Linked DNA regions of Homo sapiens. The protein of the gene in region 1 interacts with the protein of each later gene in a pairwise test. Each region holds a gene or a part of one and is shown on either strand. Other genes may lie near its edges.

Evidence for each region.
Region 2: the proteins of SGTA (region 1) and SPPL2A interact in binary tests that used the Homo sapiens proteins (3 or more experiments, as listed by UniProt).
Region 3: the proteins of SGTA (region 1) and ZBTB8B interact in binary tests that used the Homo sapiens proteins (3 or more experiments, as listed by UniProt).
Region 4: the proteins of SGTA (region 1) and TRIM5 interact in binary tests that used the Homo sapiens proteins (3 or more experiments, as listed by UniProt).

What each region holds. Positions count from the first base shown.
Region 1 is NC_000019.10:2,753,682-2,759,564, forward strand, and holds the end of SGTA (small glutamine-rich tetratricopeptide repeat-containing protein alpha), read right to left. Parts: intron 5,614-5,883; coding exon 5,576-5,613; intron 4,102-5,575; coding exon 4,012-4,101; intron 3,777-4,011; coding exon 3,662-3,776; 3' UTR 3,656-3,661; intron 2,253-3,655; 3' UTR 1,034-2,252; downstream 1-1,033. UniProt on the Homo sapiens protein: Co-chaperone that binds misfolded and hydrophobic patches-containing client proteins in the cytosol. Mediates their targeting to the endoplasmic reticulum but also regulates their sorting to the proteasome when targeting fails.
Region 2 is NC_000015.10:50,762,122-50,769,830, reverse strand, and holds the start of SPPL2A (signal peptide peptidase-like 2A isoform 1 precursor), read left to right. Parts: upstream 1-4,124; 5' UTR 4,125-4,297; coding exon 4,298-4,363; intron 4,364-7,709. UniProt on the Homo sapiens protein: Intramembrane-cleaving aspartic protease (I-CLiP) that cleaves type II membrane signal peptides in the hydrophobic plane of the membrane. Functions in FASLG, ITM2B and TNF processing.
Region 3 is NC_000001.11:32,460,780-32,468,622, forward strand, and holds the start of ZBTB8B (zinc finger and BTB domain-containing protein 8B), read left to right. Parts: upstream 1-4,292; 5' UTR 4,293-4,326; intron 4,327-7,843. UniProt on the Homo sapiens protein: May be involved in transcriptional regulation.
Region 4 is NC_000011.10:5,681,619-5,690,054, reverse strand, and holds the start of TRIM5 (tripartite motif-containing protein 5), read left to right. Parts: upstream 1-4,980; 5' UTR 4,981-5,187; intron 5,188-8,436.

The DNA.
Region 1 (5,883 bases):
TCCGTCTCCTGGGTTCCAGCGATTCTCCTGCCTCTGCCTCCTGAGTAGCTGGGATTACAGGCACCTGCCACCATGCCCGCCAATCTTTTTTTGTATTTGTAGTAGAGATGGAGTTTCATCATGTTGGCCAGGCTGGTCTTGAACTCCTGACCTCAAGTGATCCACCCGCCTCAGCCTCCCAAAGTCCTGGGATGACAGGCTTGAGCCACCACACCTGGCCAAGGGAGCAGCTTCTATGTTCACAACAAAACTCTGTGCAGCACCCTAGGGTTGGGGCTGAGATGGGCCTGGAAGCTTTCTGGGCTCCTTCTTGCCTGGGACTCCCTCACTGACCCATTCTCTCAACTGGAGCCGTTGTGAAAGGGAGGTGCCTTTGGTTACAGAATACAGAATTTATGGAGTTACAGTATGCTAGAAAAGCAACAGACAAAGCCAGGTGCGGTGGCTCACGCCTGTAATCCCTGCACTTTGGAAGGCTGAGGCAAATCACCTGAGGTTGGGAGTTTGAGACCAGCCTGACCAACATGGAGAAACCTCGTCTCTACTACAAATACAAAAAATTAGCTGGGCGTGGTGGTGCATGCCTGTAATCCCAGCTACTTGGAAGGCTGACGCAGGAGAATCACTTGAACCCGGGAGGTGGAGGTTGAGGTGAGCCGAGATTGCGCCATTGCACTCCAGCCTGGGCATCTAGGGTGAAAGTCTCAAAAAAAAAAAAAAAGCAAAGCAAAGCAACAGACAATACGATCACTCTCTGCTGAGGACCGAGGCATCTCACCCCACCCTGGGGTGACCCTCTACACCGGGATGCAGCTGGGGACGGAGGCGGAGGGAAGGGAGACAGCAGAGGGTAGAGGCTGACTGTCCGAAACCTCCCATGACCCGTGACCCGTGACCCAAGAAGTGCGGCTCCGGCGTCGCGGGGATTCACTCACAAGCAGCCCAGCTGATCCACAAACTCCGCGTCGGGGGTTTTCTCGAGGTTTGGGGTTGGAGGGTATCGGTGGCGCCAAGGTCAACACGAAGACAGACAGAGGTCACAACGCCTATTTATTCCCCACACGTCACGCCCTGCACCCCGGGTGGGCTTGGCACACACCTCACCGCCATGAGCGGCTGCAGGGCCGCGGCGGCCCCCGTTCCTACTGCTACCTACGATACACGGTACTGCGCCTACCTCACAGACGGCCAGGAGCCAGGGAGCCCCAGGATGCTCCGACTGACAACCCTGCTGCTGGGACCACGGCGCCGTGGGCTCGTCTGCCACCCCCAGGCCTCAGGAACCCAGACAGGCTGCCTGCTGTCCGGCTCTCCGGCTGCTTTCCTGGTGGCTGTTTTAGGGCCAAGGTGGGTGGCACCTGAGGTGTCCCGTGGCCTCCACCCAGCACAGGAGGGGTAAGCTTCCCTGGGGGGCCCCGGGCCCATGAAACATCCAGGACAGAAGGACAGCAGGATGGGACACAGACAGAAACGGCCCAGCTGCCTTCCCTGTGCCCGGGGCTAAGGCGGCCGGGACAGAAGGTCATGATGTCGCCCCTGGCTCTCAGTCGCGAGGACCAGAAAATGAGGGTGGGAGGAGGGGAAACATGTCTGTCAACATGCCCAACTGGAGAAAAGTCACAGAAACTGGTCCTATGCACCCAGGACGGCTCCTGAGCCGCGGAGGCGTGGGGTGACCGCAGCCGTCTCTTAGGTGTCTGCCACTAAAGAGTTCCTCATGCAAACACACATGGCCCGCGGTGCCCAGGCCGCAGCTGGCAGTGAGCTCTTCCGAGCAGGCACAGGGCCGGGGTGGCCGGGAGGTCGACTCGGAAAGAGGCTTCTCACAGACGGGAGAGTTCCTGCAGACAGACCACGGGATGGGGGGCGGGGGCTGTAAAAGGCTTTGGAAGCCACACGATCCGCCACACGGCTGAACGTGAAACCTGCCACTTCTCTGAGAGCGGCCCGGGAGCACCCCAGGATTCTAGAAAACACTCAAGTGACCGAGCTTTCTGGGGGCTGGAAGGGAGGTCGCTGCTGGTCTGTGCTCAGCTTGCTGGCTCTCGTTTCAAGAAGGGTCTGGGGGCTGTAAGGGAGTTACAAAAAGGGAGTGGAGGAGGGCAGAGATAAAAGGGGAAAATCCATCTTGACATGCAGGTCCGAGGTCTCTCTCTTCCCCTCTCTCAGGCAGTCCAACAGGAGGAAGTGGCAGACAACCAGAAGGCTTCCTTCGGGTCGGCCAGGGAAGGACGCGGTCACACCGGGAGCAGCTGGAAGGGGACAGACATGAAGGCTGTCAGAGCGCAGGTGGGGACCAAGGCTGCACCACACACTCCAGGCAGCAGGAGAGGCCCAGAGTGGACAGCCAGGGGCCACAGCGGCTATTTCAACGAACGTCAGAGCCACAGCTGCACCAGAAGCGTTCCACACACTCGGGGCCACGTGTGGCTGGTGGCGCAGAGAACATCGCCATGACCTAGAAGGGTCTACAGTATGGTGGTACTTTGTGTATGAGGTTACGGTGGTAAAAAATCCACCTCAACTATTAAAAAAAGAAAAGGAAAAATAAATAAAAGCTTATTTAAAAAAAAAAGGGAAGACTGGAAGAAAAGGCGGCCAAAATATTAATGTTGGTGGCTCTGGGTGAGAAGATTAAGGTTGGGCTGAATGCACGGCTCACACTTTGGGAGGCCGAGGCGGGAGGATCGCTTGAGCCCAGGAGGTTGAGGCTGCAGTGAGACGTGACTGCACCACTGCCCTCCAGCCGGGGGGACAGAGCAGGACGGTCTCAAAAAAAAAAAAAAAAGATTAAGATTGTTCTTGCTGCTTTTTAACATTTTTGTATTTTAAATTTGTCTACAGTAATTATGGTTTAAAAATGAAAGAGAGTGTATATGAGGAGGGGACAACGACAAAATGAAGAGGCCACATGGGAGCAGAATGGAAACACCTCTGGGGAGGCCCGGAGCCTCCCGCCCCCAGGGAGCCGGCGTCTGCTGGAGACAGACAGGACTGAACTCAGGGGAGCCTCCCACCCCTGGGAAGCCGGTGTCTGCTGGAGACGGACAGGACTGAACTCAGGGGCCCCTGGGGAAGGAAACCAAGCCAGCCACGGGCCCCTGGAACCCATGGGGGACACTGAGTGTATTTTTAAACAACTGTAAGTGCAACACCTGCTCACAGTGAGAAAAGGACAAAAAATCCCTCACAAAATGCAGGCAGAACGCTCGGGCGCAGTCAAAGGCAGGTACCCGGCTTGTCCTTTCCACCACTCGATGACCTCGCCCCCACCCCCGAGGTGGCAGCCCCGACACTGCAGAAACAAAGAGCTTCTGCAGGCGGCCTTAGGCAGGGGGGACCCCAGACACCAGCCCTTCCAGGGAGCTGTGGCTCTCCCCTAATCTCCACCCAGCGCCGATCCACAGATGGGAAAGGAGTGGGGAGCAGGACTTGGTGGCCACCTGGAAAGGGGCCCAATGCCCAGAGATGCCCCCACCTGCCTGGGCGGTTCAGGGTGATCTTCTGAGCTGGATGCACCCAGGACTCGCTGTCCAGTGTCCAGACAGGCTCCACAGCCCCCGGGCGTCACTCCTGCTGGCTGCCCTCACTGCCAGGCACTCACGTGGTGTCACTCCTGCTGGCCACCCCCCAGCCCCCGGCCCCATGCACTCACGCAGCGTCACTCCTGCTGGTCGTCGTTGCTGGCGCTGGGCGTCCGACTCCGGATCTGGCTCCTGAGCTGCTCTATCAACTCTGGGTTCTGCTGCTGCATCTGCTGGGCAAACTGCTGGCCCCTGCGGGGAAGGGCACATGGGGCTCAGCCAGGGCCAGGAGGCTGCCTGCTGCCTCCGTCCATCCCCAGCTGACCCCTCGGGCCCTCCACCCCAAAGACAGGCCTGACCCCTCGCTGGAGGACGCTGGGCCCTTCGGAGCAGGGGACGCAGCACTTTCGCTCTCCTCCTTCCCTTCCGCCTGCGAGCCCTGCCCGCCGCCCACGTCCTCCGTCCTCTTGGAAGCAGTTCCACTCACGCCTGGATGAGGCTGGCCAGGTCGTTCTGCGAGGGGCTGGTGCCGGGAGTTCCCAAGGGGTTGTTGCCACCCGAAATCATGCCGGACATGCTGCAGGAGAGAGCGCGTGACTCGCAGCCGGGACAGCCTGACCGCCACCCCCACTGCAGGCCCTCGCAGTGGCCCGGGAGAGAATCCCTCTCAGCCCTTCACCTTCCCCTGCAGGAGAGGATTCTCTCTCACCACCTGGTGGGCCTCCAGGGCCCAAACCCACCCTGTGACTTTCACCTGCTTTCCCAGAACACCCCTCTTTCTTTGGCCTAAAGAGCGTAGTTCTCAGCCAGGGGGTGATCCTGCCCCCAGAGGACCCCTGCAATGGCAGCGGACATTTGCAACAGCCATGATTGGGTTACGCCAAGACAGGGGCAGGGGGTGCTCCTGGCATGGAGTGGATGGAGGCTAGAGACAGTGCTCAGCACCCTGCAGTGCCCAGGACGGCCCTGCTCCAGAAACTGGTCCAGCTCAAATGGCCACGGTGCTGTGGCTGGGAAACCATGCTTTAAGATTTGACCGTGGGCCAGCCGCGGTGGCTCACACCTGTCATCCCTGCACTTTGGGAGGCTGAGGCGGGTGGATCACCTGAGGTCAGGAGTTCAAGACCAGCCTGGCCAACATGGTGAAACCCCATCTCTACTAAAAATGCAAAAATCAGCCGGGCATGGTGGTGGATGCCTGTAATTCCAGCTACTTGGGAAGACCCACTTGATCCCGGGAGGCAGAGGTTGCAGTGAGCCAAGATTCTGCCACTGCACTCCAGCCTGGGTGACAGAGCAAGATTCTGTCTCAAAAAAAAAAAAAGGAGAAAGAAAAAAAGATTTCACCATGAAAACAGGTGAGCAGCTCCCCAGTGCGCACAGCGCTTACTGGGGAGTGACCCTATGAGCCAGCGAGTGCACTCAGAAGTTTATATCCAAGAGAAACGAAAACAGGATTCACACAGACGATTGCACACCCGTGCTCAAGCAGCACCGTTCACAACAGACAAAAGGTAGAAACAGCCCAAATGTCCATGGATAGATGTGTGGATCAGCACAGCGTGGTCCCTCCACACTGGAATATTACTCAGCCATGAAAAGGAGCGAGGCCCTGACCCAGGCCCCAGCACACATGCACCTTGAGGACGTCACGCTCAGTGAGAGACGCCAGACACCAAAGTTCACGCAGTGTGTGATCCCATTTCTACGAAATGTCCAGGACAGGCCCATCCACAGAGACAGGAAGGGGATGCGTGGTTGTCAGGGGATAGGAGAGGGGTTGGGGAGTGACAGCTGAGGGGGAAGGGGCTTCTTTCGGAGGTGATGAAGATGGGTTGGTGCTCAATGGTGGTGACAGTTGCATGACAGTGTGATGGTGGTGACAGTTGCATGACAGTGTGATAGTGGTGACAGTTGCATGACAGTGTGAAAGTCCTTAATGCCATTAAGTTGCACACTTTAAAGTGGTTAGTTTTATGTTAAGTGAATTTACCCACAATAAAAGGAAATTTAACCACAACAAGACCCGAAGAAACCCGGTTGTCACTTACAGCTGCTGAATCTGGGGATTGTTCATTAGGTTCGAAGCCTGAAGAACAGAACAAATTTGTCAGGAAGACAAAGCTCCCAGCGCATCATTCTCTTTCATCAGACACTTTCCATCTTAACCAGCCTTGGTTCTGGACTCCAGCACGCCAACCAACAGTAAGAGCCGGGCATTCGGTCTTTCATACCCTTTTCCCTACATTTTCGCCCCCCCACCCACGAGCTGTGACCTCCACATTGTGACTTAAATCCTGTTTTGGGTTCCTGCTTCAGGAGCGATCTCGCAGCGCCACAGCGCTCTCTCACTGGCTGC
Region 2 (7,709 bases), on another chromosome or scaffold:
TATGGCCAAATAGTTTATTTGGTAAAGGTCCTGTGTACCCTTAAAATTATGTAGTTGTTGGGTGGAGAGTTCTATAAATGCCAATTAGGTCAAGTTGGTCAATGGTGTTGATCAAGTCTTCTGTATCCCTGCTGATTTTCTGCCTACTTGTTCTTTCAATTATTAAAAGATTTTACTTGAAATCTTTAACTGTAATTATGAATTCATCTATTTTTCCTTTCAGTTTAATTCGTGTTGGAGCATGGGATTTATGTTTCATTTTAATTTCTCAGATCACTCTAATATGCAGCCAGCGTTGAGGGACATTGCTTTAAGCCAATGGTTCTCAAACTTCAGCATACATCAGAATCACACAGGGAACTTGTTATTAATAGAATAGATTGATGGACGCTACTCCCAGAGTTTGTGGGGTGAGGTCCAAGAATTTGCATTTCTTTCTTTTTTTTTTTTTTTTTTTTTTTTAGTACAGACGGGGTTTCACCATGTTAGCCAGGATGGTCTCGATCTGCTGATCTCGTGATCCACCCGCCTCGGCCTCCCAAAGTGCTGGGATTACAGGCGTGAGCCACCGCACCCGGCCAAGAATTTGCATTTTTTATAGTTCCCAGGTATTTCTGATATGCTGATCCAGGAGCCACACTTTAAGAATCACAGTCTAAGCCAACATTTCTCAACCTTAGCTGCATATTAGAATCATCTGGGGAGCTTTAACAATCCTGATTCACCACACAACCCAGATCCATCCGCTTTTAAGGAATAGAATGTGAGGCAAGTTTCCACTAAGCAGTTCTCTACTTGACTTTTCCCTTTGGCTTAGTGATTTTGGGGTCCCAAGATTTATTTTCCTTTCACAAGTTCCAGCACTTTGGGAGGTAGGCAGATCACCTGAGTGCAGGAGTTCAAGACCAGCTGGTAACACAGCGAGACCTCATCTCTACAAAAAAAATACCAAAATTAGCCAGTCGTGGTTGTGCATGCCTGTAGTCTCAGCTACCCAGGAGGCTAAGGTGGGAGAATCACCTGAGCTGGGAGGTCGAGGCTGCAGTGAGCCGAGATCGTGCCACTGCACTTCAGAGCCTGGGGCACAGAGTGAGACCCTGTCTCAAAAAATAAAAACAAACAAAAACTAGAGCTCTTCTGATAGCCCAAGAGCCAGTTTAGAGATTCACTAGGCAAAGGGCCACGAGAGGCAGATGGGAATATTTAGAGATGAAGTCATCCAGTCCATACAGCTATTCTATAAAAGGGGAACCTAGGCTGGGCACGGTGGCTCACGCCTGTAATCCCAGTACTTTGGGAGGCTGAGGCAGGCAGATCACCTGAGGTCAGAAGTTCAAGACCAGTCTGGCCAATATGATGAAACCCCGTCTCTACTAAAAATACAAAAATTAGCTGGGTGTGTTGGTGGGCACCTGTATTTCCAGCTACTTGGGAGGCTGAGGTAGGAGAATCGCTTGAACCTGGGAGGCGGGGGTTGCAGTGAGATGAGATCATACCATTGCACTCCAGCCTGGGCAACAGGAGTGAAACTCCATCTCAAAACAAAAAGAAAAGGAGGGGGTGGGGAACCTGGCTTGCTGTGGGCAACTAGAAAGTATGAAAATAGTCCAGAATTGATAGGCAGCAGATGAGGCAGTTCTTACCTCACTGTGCCCCTAAGCTTCAGACCAACCCACATAGCCATTGACAGCAGATATTTGCACTTGGATATCCTAAAAGCATTTCAAACCCACTTCCAAAAGTATTCCCCCCGACCCATTTATCCCATCAACCCCCACCTACTTCGCCTTTGGCACCCAACTCAATAAATAGCCGAGGGCAAGAACCCGGGAATCATACCTCTCCCTTTATCTCCATGTCTTCAAAGTTACCAAATTCTGCTACAAGTCTTTTAGATCCATCTCCTCCTCCCTATTTCTTCTGCCACAGTTCAAGCCCTCAGTGTCCCTGGATTTTGTTACTACAGATGTCTAACAGGTGTCCTGGCTTCCACTTCTTGACCTGTTTCAACACGTCTGCTGCCCTGCCAGCCACCATAGAGAGCTTTCTAAAACAGAAAGTGTATGTCATTGCCCTATTTATTATTCATTTGTTCTCTACCCCTGGCAGGACAAAGCCCAAAGTCACAAACAGTCCCAATGTATTTATGATTTTGCCTCTGGCCTCTTCTCACATGTCATCTTTCACCACTCATAACTTCAGCCAAGCCCAAGTTTTGCAGTTCCTTCAATGCCACCTTTGGCTTTGACACTAATGGCTCACTCTTCCTGGAAGTGCCCCCCTTCTTCTACCCTTTGCCTGGCTAAAATTAACTCACCCAGACTCAGCTCAGGCTGGTATTTTTCCTGGCACCCCTTTTATAACTCCTTTTGATACTTCCATAACATCTTGTGCAAACAAGAGTCACTACTCACCCTGAACTGTGTTTGCTCACACATCTGTGTCCCTCGTTAAACTATGAGCTGTGGGGTGGCAGGCACACTGTCCTATTCAGCATTTGATATTAAATATTCATCCAACAAATATCTGAGGACCTACTATATGCCAAATACTGTAGATGTAAAGGGTATAGCAGTCAACAAAGCAAAGACACCCCTTGCTATGAAGTGGGAGGTGGCATAAATAAATGAACCTATACATAGAATGAAAAGTGCTGTGCAGATAATTAAAATAAACAATAATATGAAAGTGACTGGACAGGCCGGGTGCGGTGGCTCATGCCTGTAATCCCAACACTTTGGGAGGCCAAAGCGGGTGGATCACCTGAGGTCGAGAGTTTGAGACCAGCCTGACCAACATGGTGAAACCCCGTCTCTACTAAAAATACAAAATTAGCCGGGTGTGGTGGCACGCGCCTGTAATCCCAGCTACTGGGGAGGCTGAGGCAGGAGAATTGCTTGAACCTGGGAGGCGGAGGTTGCAGTGTGCCGAGATTGCACCATCGCACTCCGGCCTGGGCAAGAAAAGCGAAACTCCGTCTCAAAAAAAAAAAAAAAAAAAAAAGAGAAAGGAAAAGAAAAGAAAGTGACTGGACAGGTACTTTAGATTGGGTATGTCAGGAAGTCCCGTCTGGGGAAGCGACATTGAAGCTGATAAGTGAATGTCAACAAGGCAGGCATTCTGAGCTTTGGAGAGAAGAGCACTCCAGCAGGGAGGACTACCAGAGCAAAGTCCGGGCGGCCCACCAGAGCAAAGGCCGGGAGGGCCAAAGGTCCGTGCGCCTTAAAGTGTGGGAAAGTAGTGAAGATGGGGAGACAGGAAGGCAGGGGCCAGATTTACCTTTGCAGGCTAGAGTAGAGTTTTGATTTTTTTTTTTTTTTTTTTTTGGAGACCGAGTCTCGCTCTGTCGCCCAGGTTGGAGTGCAGTGGCACAATCTCGGCTCACTGCAACCTCCGCCTACCCGGTTCAAGCGATTCTACTGCCTCCGCCTCCCGAGTAGCTGGGACGACAGGTGCGTGCCACCACGCCCAGCTAATTTTTTGTATTTTTAGTACAGACTTGGTTCCACCATGTTGGCCAGGATGGTCTCGATTTCTTGACCTTGTGATCCGCCCACCTCGGCCATCCAAATGCTGGTATTACAGGTGTGAGCCATCACACCCGGCCAAGTTTTTATTTTATTCCAAGTGTGATAGAGAGAGACATGATCTGACTTATATGTTTTGAAAGATGGCTCTGGGACTGTTATGTGGCTACTGGGCTGTCCGGAGGGGAAACTGAGACCCGTTTGGAGGAGAGGGAAGTTGGTGGCCTGGATAGAGTGGTGGCAGCAGTTCTGGAGAAAGTGGATGGATCTGGGTTATGTGGTGAGTCAGAGTGGCCAGGAACAAATGACAGGCAGATGAATTAGGGTGACCCTTAGATTTCTGGCTGCATGCAACACTCGGGTAGTTACTGGGGAACCGAGCAGACGCTCAGACACTTCCGAGCCTTGAGAAATCCGTTCTCCCGCCAGGCTTCGGTGTGAGTTAAAGTCGGGCAGCCGGAAAGCGACAGGCTCAGACCCGCAGCCGGTGGCCTCGTAGCGCCGGGACGCCGGGACGCCTGGATACCGGGAGAGCGCTGGGACTCTCCGAGCCCGGCGCGGGGGTTTCCGCATCTTACGGGCGGGGCCGGAAGAGGAAGTCGCGCTGCTGTGGCGGCCGCTGTAGCAGCGGCGGTCCAGTCGTAGCCCGGCCGCCCGCGCCTGTCCGGTCCGGTCCGGCCACGGAGGCAGCGCAGCGGCGGGACTCCGAGCCTACCCCGCCGAGTGAGCTGCGCCGCACCGTGCCGTCCCACCCGGCACCCACCAGTCCGATGGGGCCGCAGCGGCGGCTGTCCCCTGCCGGGGCCGCCCTACTCTGGGGCTTCCTGCTCCAGCTGGTAAGGGGGCGGGAAGGCGCGCAGGCCTCCCAGGGGCTGGGCGGGGCCGGGGCCAAGGCCGGGGCTCCCTTCCCCTACTCCTCGCCCGGCCTCCCCTCTGCCCGCACCTCCGCGGCCTGCTCTCGCACTCCTCTTTCCTCCCCTCCTCTTTCCATTACTCATCTCTTTCCTTCCACCCTCCTCTTTTCCACCCTCTTTCCCCCAACTTTCCCGCCCCCCACTCGGTTCCCGCCCATTGAAGTCTGGCGAAATACCTACCGCAAAAAGATCAGAGGAGCCCCTTAGGTTGCGTTGACCTTGATGCTTCTCGATAGTTGCTCACTGTCCCAGCATATTTAAAATTGACCTCTGGGTTTTATTGTCTAAGCCTTTCTTACCGCTTTTTACCCTTGGGAAGAAAAAAAAATTATACAAGGCGCCAGTATGTTTAGCGGTTCGAGGACTGCACTTTAATTGCACTAACACGGATGTCTTTTTAAAATTCCCTTCCCCCACTGTAGCTCCTGCTTCGCCTTAGGGCTCATTTGATTCTGTTATGAGGGTTTTTTTTTTTTGGAGGGGGGGTTTTAATAGCAGTAATTTAAAATAACTTTTAAAAGAAGACACCAAAATGTAATGCTTTTAGTGGTTTTCAGTTTTCTGCCTAATTTAAAGGGATGGGTGGGGAGCGTCGGTTAAATGTAAGTAAGAAATATGTGTTCATAGATTTGTTTTCATAGTCACAGAGAAGTAATAGTGTTTTAAAATTCAGCCTCAAGTAATTCGAGCTTCAGTGTGGGAGTGGGGTGTCAGGAACCCGGTGTTTCAGTTTTTGTTTCTAGTGACTTTTACTTAGGGAGTTTCAGGTTGGAAACTTACGCATGTTATTTATTACAGAATTGGTGTCGTGTAAGCTTGTTTCGTTCTATTAGAATGTGTGATTTCTTTGAAAGACTGTTTTGCTGACTCTCCAGTTTAAGGGGTTAGTATTAGTGAATACAAAAGTGTCTTTAATATTTATTGAAAAACCAAAATCTAAGCCAAAAAGTAAGTGCCTTTTGGTGTATTCATAACTTTGACAGGCAACATCAGGAACCTGAGAGAATGTATCTAAAAATTGCTGGGGGAGGGGAGTTCGATATAAAAAGAGCAACAAAGTAGCAGTGTTAGTCGGAGTCTTTAAGGTGTTTACTGTGTAATCAGACAGATAATACTTATGTCCAAAAGATATTCAGATAGTATGTAGATGTATGCAAAACTATAACCTAGATATAAAACTTTTCAAAGTGTTTTTGCATTCATTTTCATTTGAATCTCTTGAGCTGATTTTAAGAATGAATATCACATTCGTACTAATCCCTTCTCAACATAAATTAATAGCTTAGTGATACATCAGTTCCTCATAAACTCACATTGAAATTCTTATTAAAGGCCCTGAGCCCTCTCACCAGAAAACTCTACTTAAGTAGACTTGTCATTTGATTTCATAGCCTTCACAAATCTAAAGATCATCCCTGTTCTAAATTGTATCTAGGCTGTCTCCCACGTTCTGGATTTTAGGCCTTTTTTTGTTGTTGTTTTTGTTTTTTTCGAGACGGAGTCTCACTCTGTCGCCCAGGCTGGAGTGCAGTGGCGCGATCTCGGCTCACTGCAACCTCCGCCTCCCAGGTTCAAGCAATTCTCCTGCCTCAGCCTCCCGAGTAGCTGGGATCACAGGCAAGCACCACCATGCCCAGCTAATTTTTGTATTTTTAGTAGAGATGGGGGTTTCACTATGTTGGTCAGGCTGGTCTCGAACTCCTGACCTCGTGATCCACCCTCCTCGGCCTCCCAAAGTGCTGGGATTACAGGCGTGAGCCACCATGCCCGGCGATTTTAGGCCTTTTATATTGCACCTATGTGCTTTGTTGTACCTCACCATGGTAATCTCGGGTTCTATATTCCTCGGTTCTAGGGTTGTTGTGAAGATTAAGTAACATTTTTCTACACTGCAAATGTTTGGTGTGCATCTTATTATATGGGATGTAATGTCCTGATGACTGAATAAACTGACAATATCTGTTTAAATTGTAAGGATCTTTTTTCGATACCAGCTAGTATCACTGATTTTTCTATTTCTTGTTGATTTCTTTATGGATTTGTTTTCTTCTTGGTTCCTCCTTCCTTTAATTTCCTGAGATGTTCTTTCTCATTCCTTTCGTGTTCTGAGAACTTGGGTAGATCTGGTTTCCTTTTCCTCAGCTGGAGTTCTTTCTCCTTTCTGGATACCTAGTTCCTTTCCTCCAACTCTGTCTGAAGTCTTCTACCATTTTCTCCCTGAAGCCCTTTGTTTATTCCTCTTCCCTAATTTTACAGCTCTAGGTAGCCTTTCTGAGTTCCTTTGATTAGTGATGCCAGCTCAATCATTTCATTTCTCCTCTCTGGGCTCTTGAAACTGGCACTACTTGTCCGGGCGTGGTGGCTCACGCCTGTCATCCCAGCACTTTGAGAGGTCCAGGTGGGTGGATCACAAGGTCAGGAGTTTGAGACCAGCCTGGCCAATATGGTGAAACCCCGTCTCTACTAAAAAAAAATACAAAAAAAAAAAAATTAGCCGGGCGTGGTGGTGCGTGCCTGTTATCCCAGCTACTTGGGAGGCTGAGGCGGAAGAATTGCTTGAACCCGGGAGGCAGAGGTTGCAGTAAGCCAAGATCGTGCCACTGCACTCCAGCCTGTGTGACAGAGCGAGACTCCATCTCAAAAAAAAAAAAAAAGAAAAGAAAAAAAGAAACTGGCACTGCTTCCCCTTAGTCATGTAATAACAGGGCCAACATCCTCATCTATAATGGAAGCAGCACGTAGTCTTCAGAAACCACTGGCACATCCATCTAGAAGAGGCAGAGGATTTAGTATTGGAAAGGCCCTTAAAGATCATTTGCCTACCCTCCTCATCTTGTCATCTTCACATCAGAGTGACCTCACTGTGTATTTTGAACTGAAGCTACAGCACATCTGGCTGTTTTAATATTTTTTAAACCCATTAGGTCTAGAAATTAAATGAGCGCCTAGCAGGTAGTTAGCTGTGTCTTGACCTTGCCATAAGTACATTTTATTTTTTGGGTTTTTGTTTTTTTTTTTTTTTGAGATGGAGTCTTGCTCTGTCGTCCAGGCTGGAGTGCAGTGGTGCGATCTCAGCTCACTGCAGCCTCCACCTCCTGGGTTCAAGTGATTCTCCTGCCTCAGCCTCCCAAGTACCTGGGATTACAGGTGCCTGCCACCACACCTGGCTAATTTTTGTAATTTTAGTAGAGATGGGGTTTCACCATGTTGCCCAGGCTGGTCTCGAACTCCTGACCTCAGGTGATCTTCCTGCCTTGGCCTCCCAAAG
Region 3 (7,843 bases), on another chromosome or scaffold:
TCCCTTTGGGAAGATAGGGTTGCTTGTTTTCCAGGAAGTCATCCCTTAGGAATTTTTTTTTTTTTTTTGACAGAGTCTTGCTTTGTCACCCAGGCTGGAGTGCAGTGGTGCCATCTCAGCTCACTGTAACCTCCACCTCCCAGGCTCAAGTTGATTCTCATGCTTCAGCCTCCCAAGTAGCTGGGATTACAGTCGTATGCTACCACACCCAGCTAATTTTTGTATTTTTATTTTTATTTACTTATTATTTTGAGATGGAGTCTTGCTCTGTTGCCCAGGGTGGAGTGCAGTGGCAGCATCTCTGCTCACTGTAACCTCTGCCTCCTGGGTTCAAGCGATTCTCGTGCCTCAGCCTCCCGAATAGCTGGGACTACAAGTGCGTGCTACCATGCCTGGCTAATTTTTTTGTATTTTTATTAGAGAGGCGTTTCATGTTGGCCAGGCTGGTCTCAAACTCCTGACCTCAGGTGATCCACCTTCCTTGGTCTCCCAAAGTGCTGGGATTGCAAGCGTGAGCCACTGCGCCTAGCCTAATTTTTGTATTTTTAGTGGGGGGTGGTTTTGCGATGTTGGTCAGGCTAGTCTCGAACTACTGACCTCAGGTGATCCACCTGCCTCGTTCTCCTAGTGCTGGGATTATAGGCGTAAGCCACTGCACCCAGCCAGCAATTTTTAATTCTCTATTTTTTGCTCTGGAGGTCCTAAGTTTTAGATTCAGTGACACATTGCTGTGCCATTCATGCTGCTGGGTACTGTCGATTAGCAGTCAGCATCCATTCCCATCTCCTTCTAGTGTCCCTTCCTATGCTGCAGAATCTGGAGAGTTAAAATGTCATGGCCAGGATTTGGAAATGAAGTGGAGGCCACCCGCCTGCTGCTTGCTGCTGAAGTGTGGCAGCAAAGGTATGAGGTGTGTCTGCAGCAGGGTTGCAGGGTCCAGTCACTAGCCATGTAGGGGTCGAGAGCCTGTTTCAGGGGCAGCAATAGTGATGGTGACTTCCAATCCCTTAATCACAGCCACAACAGTGTGTTGTTGAGCTTAACAGGTACAGTGGTGATGTCCTGATTTCTTACCTTCCTGATTGCAGCAAAAATGGGTAGCTACCCTGTTGGGACAGTTTGGAGTCATCCCTGCAGAGTCATTCTCTAGCCTCCCTGATAATTTGTATTACTTAATTCCTTATATGAATTCTTTTCTGTTTAAACTAGCCAGGTTGCTTTTTGCTTAAACTAGCCAGGTTGGTTTTAACTGAACCTTGAAAAATATACTGAAGTTCAGAGCATCTAACACTAAAGGTTGTGCTGGTCTTGGTGGCGAGAGTAAGTCCCACAGCAGACCACAACAGATCTAGAGATCATAAGGCCTCTAACATTTCCTATGCCTAGTTGTCAGGGGCATGTCCTATGCAGGCCACCCCAAAAAGCCCTTTTACGTTAGCAGTCTGGAATGTTACTAGGTCATCCAGTACAGGTTGCGTGTGCCATAGTCATAAAATTTGGGACCTGAAACTTGGAGCCTGGATGCAGGAGATGTGGAATGAATACTAGGGTGAGTTCCAGGTACAGTCATAATTAAGGTGAAGGCATCAGTGACATGACTTCCCAGGTAAGAAGATACAAAAGGCTGAGCCCAGAGAAGCTTGGTGCTCCTCACTTCTGATGCTTTCTCTGCTGCTATGATGATCAAAAGTCCTCAGCACCTGAGCTGGCCTTTGGGAACCAGGTGGCAAGGACAGCCACACTAACAGGAAAGATGTAACTGCTGCTGTCCCTCTCTGGGTATCCAGCTTTACAAGAAATAGGTAAACTACTTTTCTTTGATAGATAGTATAGTGGTGTTTGGCTGACATTTTACCTTCTAAAATTATTAAGTTATCTTTAGAGTGAACTGCAATTACATTTTTGACAAGCTCTAAAATATATCCTAAACAAACCCCTCCATCTCTACCACCTCTACCCTATCCCCAGTTATCAGCATCTATCAGCAGGGGAGAGATCATATCTTATCTCTTCCCTGCTTAAGATCCTTCGAAGGTGTCCCTTCACATTCATAAGAAAAAATCCAAACTCCTTAAGGTGGCCTACAAATTCCTACATAATCTGGCCTTTGCTTCTCTATCCATTCATATTTCCTGTCGCTTGGACTGGCTACATAATTTGTGGGGCCCAATGCAAAATGAAAATGCAGAGCTCCTTGTTCAAAAACTACTAAGAATTTTAAGAGGGCAATGGCAGAGCATTAAACCAGGCATCAGCCCTTTCCTTTTTTTTAATTTTTAAAATATTTATTTAGATTTTCTTTTTGTTAGTAATTAAATCTTTCTTCTTCTTCTTCTTCTCCTCCTCCTCCTTCTCCTTCCTCTCCTTCCTCTTCCTCTTCTTCTTCTTCCCTCTTCCCTCTCTCCTCCTCCTCGTCCTCCTCCTCCTTGAAACAGTGCAGTGGCACAATCTCAGCTCACTGCAACCTCCACTTTCCATGTTCAAGTGATTCTCATGCCTCAGCCTCCCGAGTAGCTGGGATTACAGGTATGTGTCACCATGCCCAGCTAATTTTTGTATTTTTAGTAGACACTGGGTTTTGCCATGTTGGCCAGGCTGGTCTCAAGTGATCCGCCCGCCTCAGCCTCCCAAAGTGCTGGGATTACAGGTGTAAGCCACCGCACCTGGCTCTTTTTTTGTTTTGTTTTGTTAAGTATAAAACCTCACCTGGAAGCACCAGCCCTTTCTGAGTGTGCGGGCCTGTGCCACTGCGTGGGTTGCACGTCCATTAAGCTGGTCTACCTGCCATCCACTTCCTCAACCCAATGGCATTCTCCTGTTTCTTAGATATGTACCAACCGGTTTTCTGTTTTATCTTAGCATGGCTCACTACTCCTCATTAGGGTCTCTCAGCGAAGGGGGTAGCCTTTTTTTTTTTTTTTTTTTTTTTTGAGACAGAGTCTTGCTCTGCTGCCCAGGCTGGAGTGCAGTGGCCAGATCTCCACTCACTGCAATCTCTTTGGTTCAAGCATTCTCCTGCCTCAGCCTCCCAAGTAGCTGGGATTACTGGCCCACGCCCGGCTAATTTTTGTATTTTTAGTAGAGATGGGGTTTCACCATGTTGGCCAGGCTGGTCTCGGACTCCTGACCTCAGGTGATCCACCCGCCACCACTCCAGCCTGGGCAACAGAGTCTGAGACTCCGTCTCAAAAAAAAAAAAAAAAAAAAAAAAAAAGTCATACTGGCATAGAGTGAACCCCTAATCCAATATGACTGGTATCCTTATAAAAATACTTTTTTTTTGGAGACGGAGTCTCTCTCTGTCGCCCCAGGCTGGAGTGCAGTGGCGCGATCTCGACTCACTGCAACCAAAAGGAGACATTTTGACATGGAGACATATACAGGGAATATGCCCTGTGAACATGAAGATGGCCATATGCAAGCCCAGGAGAGAAGCCTGGAAGAGACCGTTTCCTCACAGCGCTCAGAAGGAAAGAACCCTGCCAACATCTTGCTTTCAGATGCCCCCAGGATTGTCAGACAATAAGATCTGTTATTGACGCCACCGGGTTGGTGATACTTAGGTACAGCAGCCCTAGCAAACGAATACACCCCCATGAGAACTAAGCTCCCTGAGAGCGGTAAGCTGCCTTGTCTTGCTCACAGCTGACAAGAACACGCCTGTACGGTCACTTAGCACCTAGTACTGCCATTTAACCGTTTCACTAGTATGTATGAACCGGAGAGCCTGTCAAGGGAAGAGCTGAATCTTTTATCTTTTGTAACGACTACCCAGTGAAAGAAACCGCGGGTATGCAATAAAAACCTGTTGAATCGATTAAACCATTTCCCTTATTTCCAGATTTTTGCGGAAAGCGCCAGTAGGTGAAATATGTGCGGACTGATGAGTCAAAGCTCTTATTCCCTGGACTGCATTAATACCCACGACGTGCTTTTCGCTCTCCAGACAAAGAGACCGGTACTTGGCAGGTCCCTCAAGTGGGACTCAAAAGACCGAACCGAGCTGCAGCCTTTCGCTAGCACTGGTCCTCGCCCCTTTTGGCATCTTGGTACTTGTAGTTTTGTCCACTCTATCTTTACCCGAAAAGCCAGCGCTGAGACCACAACTCCCATCACCCTGCGAGCACCAGCGCCTTCAGAGCGCATCCTCCGAGGGGCACCAGCGCCATTGACCACCCTGCTGGCCGAAGGGCCCGCCTTCCCGAGGCCAGGCGCTCCCGCGATTGGCCAGCCGCCCCGCCTCTCATCGGAGGGCGCCAGGTGAATGAAAGGGGGGCGTGTCGGTGCGCGGTGCTCCGTGGCTGCGCTGCTGGAACCCGCTGGAAGGTGAGCGCGAAGAAGCGGGTTGGCGCTGCCGCTTTCGTTGGTTTGGGGAGGATTCCTAGCACCCGGGAGGCTGGCTGGAGATTGGGGTTAGCGGGCAGGGTTGCCCCCACTCAGTCATCCTCCTTCGGACCGCTTGGCCCTGGCAACTCCTGGGACCTCCGCCCCGCGAGCCCTTCTAGCGTGGGGAGGGGCAGGCGCGGCCGTGGGGCCCCAGCTTCCCTGTCATTGGGTGTCCTCCGCGTCGTCCAGCCGGGGGTCGCGGCGCCGACTACTTCCACGGTGAATGGTGCCCAGGCGTGGGGGGCTCGGCCACACTGGAGAAGTGCCAGCGGCAGCGATGGCCACTTTGTCCGCGGGAGGCCATGGGAGGGGCTAGGCCTTGGGGTCCCACCCTCGGGGGCCGTGCCCTGTAGCTGGTTCTGGTGGCCTCTCTGCAGGTCGTCTGATGCTGGACGGGGGAGGGTCTGTCTTGCGAGCAGTTTAGATGCAGTTGACCCTGAAATTCTTCGTATGGAAATGGAAACTTCTCCAGTGTCCTTCTCCTCCGATCCATGCCTAAAAGAAAGGAGTGACTTCCCCAACCTGTCGCATCGTGTCCTGGAGGGTTTGAGGAGGCCGGTTAGCATAGTGGTTAAGGATGTCAACCCGGGAGTCAGTCGGATCTCTGTTCTATTACTAACTTGGTGATGTTATCTGCATCTTTGAATCTCAGTTCCTCCTCTGAAAAAGAGGATGTAGTTAGAGTATCTGTCGTACTGGATTATTGTGAGGTGAAAACTAATGTGCTTGTAAAAGCCAGGCATGGTGGCGCGCACCTGTAGTCCCTGCTACTCGGGAAGCTAAGGTTGGGAGGATCTCTTGAGCCCAGGAGTTCCAGGCTGCATTGAGGTAGGATCGTGCACTCCAACCTGGGCAACCGAGCAAGACCGTGCCTTTTAAAAATTTTAATTTAAAAAGTAAAATGAATATGCTTGTACTTTGTACAGTGTTTTATAAGGAATAGTGCTTAATATTTACTAAAATTGAGGAGCAGGTTTTTGTTATTCTCAGGTTGGTGGGACTGGAGGAGTCTTGTCAGAAAGGGTCGGAGGTGGAATTCAAGGCTGCTTTTGGCCTCTGAACAGAGACAGTTGTGTGATCTGGCTAGGACTCCCTCAAGGGTATATGAGAGTTTGTATTGCAGGTAGTTGTGTTGGCATCTGCTGTCTCCTGGAGGACAGGCACTATACTTGGTTCATTTTTCTATTCCTGGCATCTTCCTTGTGTCAGGCATTGTATGTAGCCGGTAACCGTTGAATTGAGTTGGAACCGTGGGATGGTTGGGAGGTTCCCTGCCAGAGTGCGGATAAATGTGCTTCTGAGAGCAGTCTGCCCTAAGAGCTGCTCTTCTGGGATAAGTGGTGATCCTCAGCACTTCCCGGGGCAGCAGAGCACTTCAGGCAAATGGGGGTGATATAAATAAATATTTACACAATATATACCAAGTACAGGATTGGGGAAAATTTTGAAGAAAATACTATACGGATAGACTTTTGCAACGTCAGGAAGTAGAATAAAAATAATTGCAATAGAATAAAAAATAATTTCAGTAAGAAAGCCAAAAGAAATTGGTTTTAGGTGCTATTTCTGGAAAGGAGGCTTTTCCAGTGAAAGACGGAAGTGCCCTGGGAAGAGCCCCTATAGATCAGACCATACTACAAGTTAAGAAGTGTTGTGCGTACTTACATATTTATCTACCTGGCTTACCAACTCCTTACCCCTCTGCCCTGCCTCCTTTTTTTCTTAGTTAACAAAGAAAAAAGCCAAGGCAGAAGGATCACTTGAGTCCAGGAGTTCAAGACCATTGAGACCAGCCAGGGCAACATAGTGAGACCCCATCTCTACAAAAAAATGTTTTCAGAATTAGCTGAGTGTGGTGCTGCATGCCTGTAGTCACAGCTACTTGGGAGGCTGAGGTAGGAGGATTGCTTGAGCCTGGGAGGTCGAGGCGGCAGTGAACTGTGATCATGGACTGCACTCCAGCCTGGGTAACAAAGTAAGACCCCGTCTCAAAAGAAAAGAAAAGCAATACATGCACATAGTAAAACATTCTATCAGAAAGGTTTAAAATGAAAGGCGAAAGTCCCTCCACACACTTGTTTTTTTTTTTTTTTTTGAGATGGAGTCTCGCACTATCGCCCAGGCTGGAGTGCAGTGGCACAATCTCTGCTCACTGCAGCCTCCGCCTCCACCGCCTCCTGGGTTCAAGTGATTCTCCTGCCTCAGCCTCCCGAGTAGCTGGGATTACAGGTGCCCGCCACCATGCCCAGCTAATTTTTTTGTATTTTTAGTAGAGACGGGGTTTCACTACGTTGGCCAGGCTGGTCTCGAACTCCTGACCCCAGGTGATCTACCCACCTTGGCCTCCCAAAGTGCTGGGATTACAAGTGTGAGCCACCACACCCGGCCCCAAGTGGATTTTAAACTTGGTTTATAGTTTATCTACTAAGCAGTTAAGAAATGAATATTCCTTTTTTGCTTAACAAATCTATTTTGTCCAAAGCACTCTGCCAGATACTGTAAGGGATATAAAATTGAATAAGACATGGCTCATGCTTTCAAAGGGCTTGTAGTTCATTGACAGAGAAGGGCCAGGACATAAATAATAAACAGGAGTTAACCAAGGGTAGTGGAATCAGTCAGTTAGGAGTCTCCCAGTTGCATGAAATAGAAAACCCAACTCAGAGGCCAGGTGTGGTGTCTCACACCTGTAACCCCAGCACTTTAGGAGGCTGAGGGGGGCAGATCACTTGAGGCCAGGAGTTCGAGACCAGCCTGGGCAACATGGCAAAACCCTGTCTCTACCAAAAGTACAAAAAAAATTAGCCTGGCGTGGGGGTGGGTACCTGTAGTCCCAGCTACTCGGGAGGCTGAGGTAGGATGATTACTTTAGCCAGGGAGGCGGAGGTCAGAGTGGGCCGAGATCACACCACTGCACTGCAGCCTGGGTGACAGAGTGAGACCCCATCCCCCATCTCAAAAAATAATAATAATAATATTTAAAAAAGAAAACCCAACTCAGACCAGCTAAACCAAAAAGGAACTTAATTGGCTTCTGGCACTGCTTGAGTTGGGGCTCCAATGTTGTCCCCAGGCTCCATCAGCCTGAGCTGGGCTGTCATCTTTGTTAGGCTGACTTCCCTGGTGGTATGGCAGCAACATCCCTCACATCCTGCATCCCACAGAGCAAAGAGTGCTCTTTTTTGAAATTCCAGCAAATGTTTCATTGCTTTTCATTGGCTCTGAAAACTACATGGCCATCTCCGAGCCAATCACTGTGGTCACAGGGTGGGATGCCTTAATTTTATTAGCCTACATTATAGCTTACACACCTGGTGCTTGAGGATGGCACCAGCTTTATGCAAAGCATGTTGGCCAAGAATGGGGGAAGGATGCTTCCATCAAAGCCGAAAAAAGGCACTAGAACCAAAAGAATGGGGAATGCATGCTGGCTAGCCCAAGAATCCACCAAATACTT
Region 4 (8,436 bases), on another chromosome or scaffold:
TTTCTTCCTCTGCCATCTCAGCAGACAGTTCACAAGCTGCCTCTTTTTGTTTATGCAGAGCAGCTTCAGAACTACAAATTAAACTCACCCAGACACAATCAATCTATTCTTCTCAAAGCCTCCCATTCTATGCTCCCACAGATTGCTCCACTCACCTTCAGTCCAAAGCAGAGGAGTCTTGAATCAGGGGAGAAGAGTGAAGGCAGGGCAGGAGCCGGTGTAAACCAGATTCACTCACCAAGCCAGAGGGCTGGTCTCCACAAATGAGTTTCCCCACAGGAGCTGAGTGAGAAACGAAAGTTAAATTCTCAGAAGTGAAAGAAAACAAAGGAAGCTGAACAAGAACTTACATAACAATAAACCCTGGGGAAAGTAATGCTACATTATGTTCTAGCATCTGCTGTACTGGCAAGGCACTCAGTCACTACTTCCTTATTCTTACTGTGGTTTACTCAAGCAAGAATATTTGAATAAAAAGAATGTGAATTACAGTTATACAGCTTGCCTGAATACTTAGAATTCCAATGCAGTCCTATAATTATTAGTCGAATTTATCTTATATTTAAGACCTAAGCCAGGAAAATAAAGATCCAGAGACTTGGGACCTAGCTTCTTGAAATGCAGTCTGACGAGGAAGATACTCAGTTATAAAGCTCTACAAATTTGGGCTGACAAGATGAGTATTAGCAGCTGACATTGTGAATGGTAAAAAAATTATTTTTATAAATAAAAGGATCTTTAGTGTGAGCCCATTGAAAAAAATGTTCTCAAAATGTCATTAAATCTTAAGAGTCCATCAATTAATTATCACTTCCTGCTCCTAATCCAGACAGACCAGATGAGGATGGATTCCAGAGAGTAATAGAGGTAAAACTGTGTCAGTGTCATGTTACCCAGCCACTGAGGCAGGTGAGAACATGGAAGTTAACAGATGATGCTGTTTAATTATAATCATTCATTGAGTTACTCTCATGCCTTCATAATTTTTCCACTTTTCCCTGCTTCTCTAAGAAAAGTTTGGTCATTTTTACACAATCAATTAAAAAGCAGCACTGAAACATGTTATACGTCATGCACATACTTCTGTACCCTGTTGTCTATTGTATTCTTGTTTAACTGCATGTGCCAGATAATGCCATCAAAAACTGATGGAGGCCTGTGGTGTCTCATGCCTGTAATCCCAGCACTCTGGGAGGCCCAGGTGGGTGGATCACTTGAGTCCAGGACTTCAACACCAGCCTGGGCAACATGGTGAAATCCCATCTCTAAGAAAAATTAAAAAAAAAAAAATAGCTGGGTGTGGTGATGTGCACCTGTAGTCCCAGCTACTCAGGAAACTGAGATGGGAGGATGGCTTGAGCCCAGGAGGTGGAGGTTGCATTGAGCCAAGATTGCGTCATTGCACCATAGCACTGCAGCCTGGGTGACATAGTAAGACCCTGTCTCTACAAAAAACAAACAAACAAACACCACACAACACATACACACACACACCCAAAAAAAAAGAAAAAAAAAGGCAACTCATGGAGCTTCCATAACATGGATCCCTGACTGACACTATGGAGCATGGCCATCTTCATACTTTAATCAATGATACACATGTAGGATGACTGAGAAATCAATGTTTATTATTTCAATAATAGATATTTTGGTATTATTTGTTGCTCACAGAATAATAAGCTAATCCTGGCTATAAATTCTTTCCTACTCACTTATATCTATGAGGACCTTATTCAATCAGCTGAAAGCCAGAATAGAAGAAAAAACTGACTTCTCCCCGAGAAGAGGGAATATTACCAGCAGGCAAACCTCAGGCGTGAGCTATAACGTTGACTCCTTCTTGGATCCAGAGCCTCTTGGCCTACCTTGCAGACTTTGGATTTGCCAGTCTCCAGAATCACCTGAGACATTTCTCAAGTTTCTTTCCAAATAAATTCATAGTTTAGTGGTTCTATTGCTATGATGAACCTTGACTAAGACAGGCGTGAAATTTTCTTATTTCTTCTTGAAGATAAATAAGCAAGAGATGTAATTTTAGGTATATTCCATGTTTGAATAGAATATCTTGTTGACATTTGTAGGGGAGTGAGCGCTCAGTGAGTGAATGTGTTTTTTCTGGAGTGCACAGAGTGGAGTCCGAGTGTCAACCACAATGGACAAAGTGAATGAACTCATTTATCCAGAGACCTGTTCTCTGTCCATTATTTCTTCCCTTCTCAGCACTTCCATAGATCTCATAGCCATCCTTTTATTCTCGTCTGGCTTTGAACATCTGAAGTGAACTTTCATCCTGGTCTGATTTATCTCATGAAGTATTAATTGCAGCTGAGAGAAAACAGTAGTAATATTAGGTCCTGACAAGATACCAGAAAACGTGGGCCAATAGAAAAACTGAATGCACCACACACAGTTTATCACCAGAGTAGAGCATGTTGGCAGGCTCCATATTCTAACCTATGTTCTAAATTGTAGAAAAAATATATTATTGTTGGAGCTCTGTGTTTTCTCTGTAAACCCTTTTTTTTTTTTTTTTTTTTGAGACGGAGTCTCGCTCTGTCGCCCAGGCCGGACTGCGGACTGCAGTGGTGCGATCTCGGCTCACTGCAAGCTCCGCTTCCCGGGTTCACGCCATTCTCCTGCCTCAGCCTCCCGAGTAGCTGGGACTACAGGCGCCCGCCACCGCGCCTGGCTAATTTTTTGTATTTTTAGTAGAGACGGGGTTTCACCTTGTTAGCCAGGATGGTCTCAATCTCCTGACCTCATGATCCACCCACCTTGGCCTCCCAAAGTGCTGGGATTACAGGCGTGAGCCACCGCGCCCAGCCTGTAAACCTTATATATCCTGCTTTCCTGCTTGAAAAGGAATCAAATGAAATATCTCTACCTTTGGGTCCATGGATATTTAACATTTTTCTCTTCAAGAAAAAGAGCAAAATAAGAGTAAATATGGTTAGAGTCTGAATAATACTTAGGAAGAAAACAGAGAGGATATTTTAAAAAATCGTTTAAAATTTGTTTAAAAATTTACATAATTACTTTTTTTTTTTTTTTTTTTTTTTTTTTTTTTTTTTTTTTTTGAGACAGAGTCTCACTCTATTGCCCAGGCTGGAGTGCAGTGGCATGATCTCGGCTCACTTCAACCTCCACCTCCCGGGTTCACGCAATTCTCCTTCCTCACCCTCCTGAGTAGCTGGGATTACAGGCATCTGCCATTACACCTGGCTAATTTTTGTATTTTTCGTAGAGATGAGGTTTCACCATGTTGGTCAGGCTGGTCTCAAATTCCTGACCTCAAGTGATCCACCCGCCTTGGTCTCCCGAAGTGCGAGGATTACAGGTGTGAGCCACTGCAAATGTAATCATTACATAATTATTACTAATGCCACATAATTATTACTAAATAACAATTAGTAATATTAATTATAATTGTAACTATTAATAATTGTAATTATTAATAATACTAATTATTATAATTATTACTATAATTATTACTGCCACATAATTATTACTAATGCCAGAAGAATATTTGAATTAAACTAGGTGACACAGCAGTTATCTTTACAGCAAGAATAGAACAGAAATGTGACATCAAGATATTCAATTAAAATTAGATTAATAGCTATATATCTTCATATCTATTTAAATATTACTCCTTATATACACCATATTCTAGTAAATCTGAGACAATAAAGAACAAAATGCAAAAGCCCCCTACCTGATTTCATGAAACAGAAAGCTGCGGGGGTACAGTGTGGAGGGGGTATGAGGTTACTGATGATGGAATTAAGTGATAACAGGCTGCCCACTGCAGTGCTCCCCATTGCCTTCTCCTGAGGCATTTTCATTTTCAAACTAAATACTCCTCTCTACCAATGATCCTAGTTCCAGTGTGGACTTCCTGAGATGTTCCAGTAAGGGAAAGCTTAGAAGGGAGGCTATGGTACATGGACCACAGTTCAGCCTTTTGGACCAGTTTTGCATAGTAACCAGAAGAGAAGAGAGAGGAAGGCCTGGCCCTGCTCAGGGATGCAATAGATACTTTGGAAAAGACAACAGCGGGAAGTTGGAGAGTTCTTTGAAAGTGAATAGTTGAAAGAAATAATGTGGTATTTCTTTATCGCTCTCCAGATAAACTTCTTTTTTTTTTTTTTTTTTTTTTTTTTTTTGAGACGGAGTCTCACTCTGTCGCCCAGGCTGGAGTGCAGTGGCGCGATCTCTGCTCACTGCAAGCTCCGCCTCCCGGGTTCACGCCATTTTGCTGCCTCAGCCTCCGGAATAGCTGGGACCACAGGCACCCGCCACCATGCCCGGCTAATTTTTTATTTTATTTTATTTTATTTTATTTTATTAGAGATGGGTTTTCACCGTGTTAGCCAGGATGGTCTCGATCTCCTGACGTTGTGATCCGCCCGCCTCAGCCTCCCAAAGTGCTGGCATTACAGGCGTGAGCCACCGCGCCCGGCCCTCTCCAGATAAATTTCTAGCATCCTGTCCTCTCTGGGTTTCGGAGTCTTAATAATATGACATCTCTCCTACCTGCAGCTCCTTTTCTGTTCATAGGTCCTATAAGATTTTTAAGTCCAGACCAGAAATCTACTGCAATTCTCTAAAAATCATTAACTTTGTTCTTCCTTCTCTTTGGGCCATATCTGTCACCCAGAAGCAGAACTCAGCTGTGAGATCAGGAGCAAGAGGAGCACATTGGAAGAATTTCGAAAAAGGGCACCTTTTCTAATTTTTAATACTTGGCTGGGTTAATCTGAAACTATGTCAGAAGAAGTGGCATGATAACAAGATCCTGAGACTCAAGAGAAAAGGGAGATTGAGTGGGAATGCCTCTAGTTCCCACGGCTCCTCCTGTGAACAGCACAGCTACACGGCCCGGCTGATTCATTCAGAGGGCGGGACTCACCAGGCCCTACGTGGAGAAATGCCATTGGCCCATAGTTTATCTTTCACTTTCCTGCCCTGAGTGTGAGCAAGAATTTCCTGCGGTTCCTCTAGGAAAATTCCTTTGTGCAGATCAGGCCCGTGGATTGGTGAGTGAATCCTAACCACGTCTTCCCTGGCCTGTCTTCACTCTTCTCCCCAGAATCACCACTTCTGCACTGGTGTCTGAAGGTGTATTGAGTGATTTTGTGGAGGGCAGAAGTAGGAAGTCTTTGGGACAAAACTGTATTTACCTTGGTGAGTTTAACTTATCTGAAAAGCTGTGCGGGGGTGGGGAAAAGACACAGTTCACAGACTTCTTGCTGCCAGAGCTGACTGAGGGGAACAGAGCCGCCTGGCGGGCAGGCAGATTTGAAAGAAGGGAGAGCTTTAAAGTGAAGGGCTTTGTTTCCCGAAGGCTGGTTATTTTTCCATGCTGACTCTCTCCCCATCCCCTCCCTACTCTATACTTTTTAATTGAACTTTGCTGTAGAGAGCCAGAATTCTCTCTTTCAGTGTCTTCTCCCAACAACAAGGGCAAAGACAGGGGCCTTGGAATCCTAATGATTTAATGCCTATTAGTTTACTAATGTAGTGTTTCTGCATAACTCTACAGGTCAGTTCTCATCACCTTGGCCTGGCTCTGTGACATCAGCCTTCATGGTGTGACAGCTGTCCAGTTCTGTAGTCCTGTCATTGTCACTGTAAATGGAGTTCTTTCCCTAGTTCATATTGGTTACAAAGATAATGGGAAAAAAGGCAAGCAGGTTTTATTTCTTGCTAGGAGTGGAGAGTAAGAGAGCTCCTTCTCTAAAGCCCCCTCCCCCAAAACAGTGGAAAGCATTGGCTTTAAAAGAACTGAGTACGGGGAGAGAAAGGAGTGTTAGCCTATAGGGTGGAACTCCAGTTGTGCCACCTCTGTTTATAAACACATGTCTTCATACTGTGTCCGGAATTGGTGGGTTCTTGGTCTCACTGACTTCAAGAATGAAGCCGCGGACGCTTGCAGTGAGTGTTACAGTTCTTAAAGGCGGCATGTCCGGAGTTTCTTCCTTCTGATGTTCGGATGTGTTCAGAGTTTCTTCTTTCTGGTGGGTTCGTGGTCTCGCTGGCTCAGGAGGGAAGCTGCAGACCTTCGCGGTGAGTGTTACAGCTCATAAAGGCAGTGTGGACCCAAAGAGTGAGCAGTATTAAGATTTATTGCAAAGAGGAAAATAACAAAGCGTCCATAGTGTGGAAGGGGACCAGCGCAGGTTGCCACTGCTGGCTCAGGCAGCCTGCTTTTATTCTCTTATCTGGCCCCACCCACATCCTCCTGATTGGTCCATTTTACAGAGAGCCGAGTGGTCTGTTTTGACAGGGCACTGATTGGTGCATTTACAATCCCTGAGCTAGACACAAAAGTTCTCCAGTCCCCACTAGATTAGCTAGATACAGAGTGTAGACACAAAGATTCTCCACATCCCCACCAGAGTAGCTAGATACAGAGTGTCGATTGGTGCATTCACAAACCCCGAGCTAGACACAGGGTGCTGATTGGTGTGTTTACAAACCTTGAGCTAGATACAGAGTGCCGATTGGTGTATTTACAATCCCTTCGCTAGACATAAAGTTTCTCCAAGTCCCCACCAGAGTAGCTAGATATAGAGTGTCGATTGGTGCATTCACAAACCCTGAGCTAGACACAGGGTGCTGATTGGTGCATTTACAATCCCTTAGCTAAACATAAAGGTTCTGCAAGTCCCCACCAGACTCAGGAACCCCACTGGCTTCACGCAGTGGATCCTGCACCGGGCCGCAGGTGGAGCTGCCTGCCAGTCCTGTGCCATGCCACGCACCTGCACTCCTCAGCCCTTGGGTGGTGATGGGACTGGGCGCCGTGGAGCAGGGGGCGGTGCTCGTCAGGGACGCTCGCGCAGCACAGGAGCCCAAGGGGTCGTGGGGAGGCTCAGGCATGGTGGGCTGCAGGTCCTGAGCTCTGCCCCGCGGGGAGGCAGCTAAGGCCCGGCGAGAAATTGAGCACAGCAGCTGCTGGCCCAGGTGCTAAGCCGCTCACTGCCCGGGGCAGCGGGGCCGGCCGGCCACTCCGAGTGCGGGGCCCACCAAGCCCACGCCCACCCGGAACTCCAGCTGGCCCACAAGCGCGGCGCGCAGCCCCGGTTCCCGCTCGCCCCTCTCCCTCCACACCTCCCTGCAAGCTGAGGGAGCCAGCTCCGGCCTTGGCCAGCCCAGAAAGGGGCTCCCACAGTGCAGCGGTGGGCTGAAGAGCTCCTCAAGTGCCGCCAAAGTGGGAGCCCAGGCAGAGGAGGCGCCAAGAGCGAGTGAGGGCTGCAAGGACTGCCAGCATGCTGTCACCTCTCAATACAACCCAGGCACACAAAATGGTGGAGATTTTCTTGTTTGGTGTCGTGTGGGGGAGGGGGTAACTTAACACTCTAGTGATATGTTAATGATCTAAAGGCAATTAGGGATTGTCAGTTCCAGTATATACGCTGGTTCGGGGGTCTAATTTCCCCCTTGGATCTGGTCAGGGGTCAAGATCTGGACCATGCTGGGCAGTCTGGCTTCTTCTTAAGCAACTTTGTCTATACATAAAGGGAATAAAGAAAAACGTTAAGAAAAATAACTTTCCCAGTCATTTCATCAGGGCTTCCCTGGTGACAGCATCTGTTTGCCTCTACTAGGGCACCAAGTCCAGACTCAGGGAACTACTGGATTTTCTTAAAAATCATTAACCTTGCTCCTCCCTCTCCGTGGGCCGTATCTGCCCCCCAAAAGCAGAGCTTAGGTGAGATACGAAGAGCAGGAGAAGCATGTGGAAAGAATACCCAAGTAGCTGGGATTACAGGCACCTGTCACCAAGCTCAGCTCATTTTGTATTTTTAGTAGAGACAGAATTTCACCATGTTGGCCAGGCTGGTCTTGAACTCCCAGCCTCAGGTGATCCGCCTGCCTTGGCCTCCCAAAGTACTAGGATTACAAGCGTGAGCCACCACACCCGTCTGGTTAAGTTAAATATTAAAAGCTGAAGCCGGGCACGGTGGCTCACGCCTGTAATCCCAGCACTTTAGGAGGCCGAGGCAGGTGGATCACAAGGTCAGGAGTTGGAGACCAGACTGGCCAATATGGTGAAACCCCATCTGTACCAAAAATACAAAAATTAGCCGGGTGTGGTGGTGCGTGCCTGTGGTCCCAGCTGCTCGGGAGGCTGGGGCAGAGGAGTCACTGGAACCTGGGAGGCAGAGGTTGTGGTGAGCCGAGATTGTGCCATTGCACTCCAGCCTGGGCGACAGAGCAAGACTCCGTCTCAAAAAAGAAAAAAAAATATTAAAAGCTGATAGAGCCAGTGCCCTTATACAAAGGCTGGAATGTAACAGAAGCCCACTGAGAGTTTTGCCCAGGCCTTTCCTGGGCCTTGAAGCATGACAAGATAACGAAGGAATCGATTAGGACCTGTTTAGGATTAAACAAGTTTTATGGGGGTCTGAAGGAACTCCCAGGCCTCCA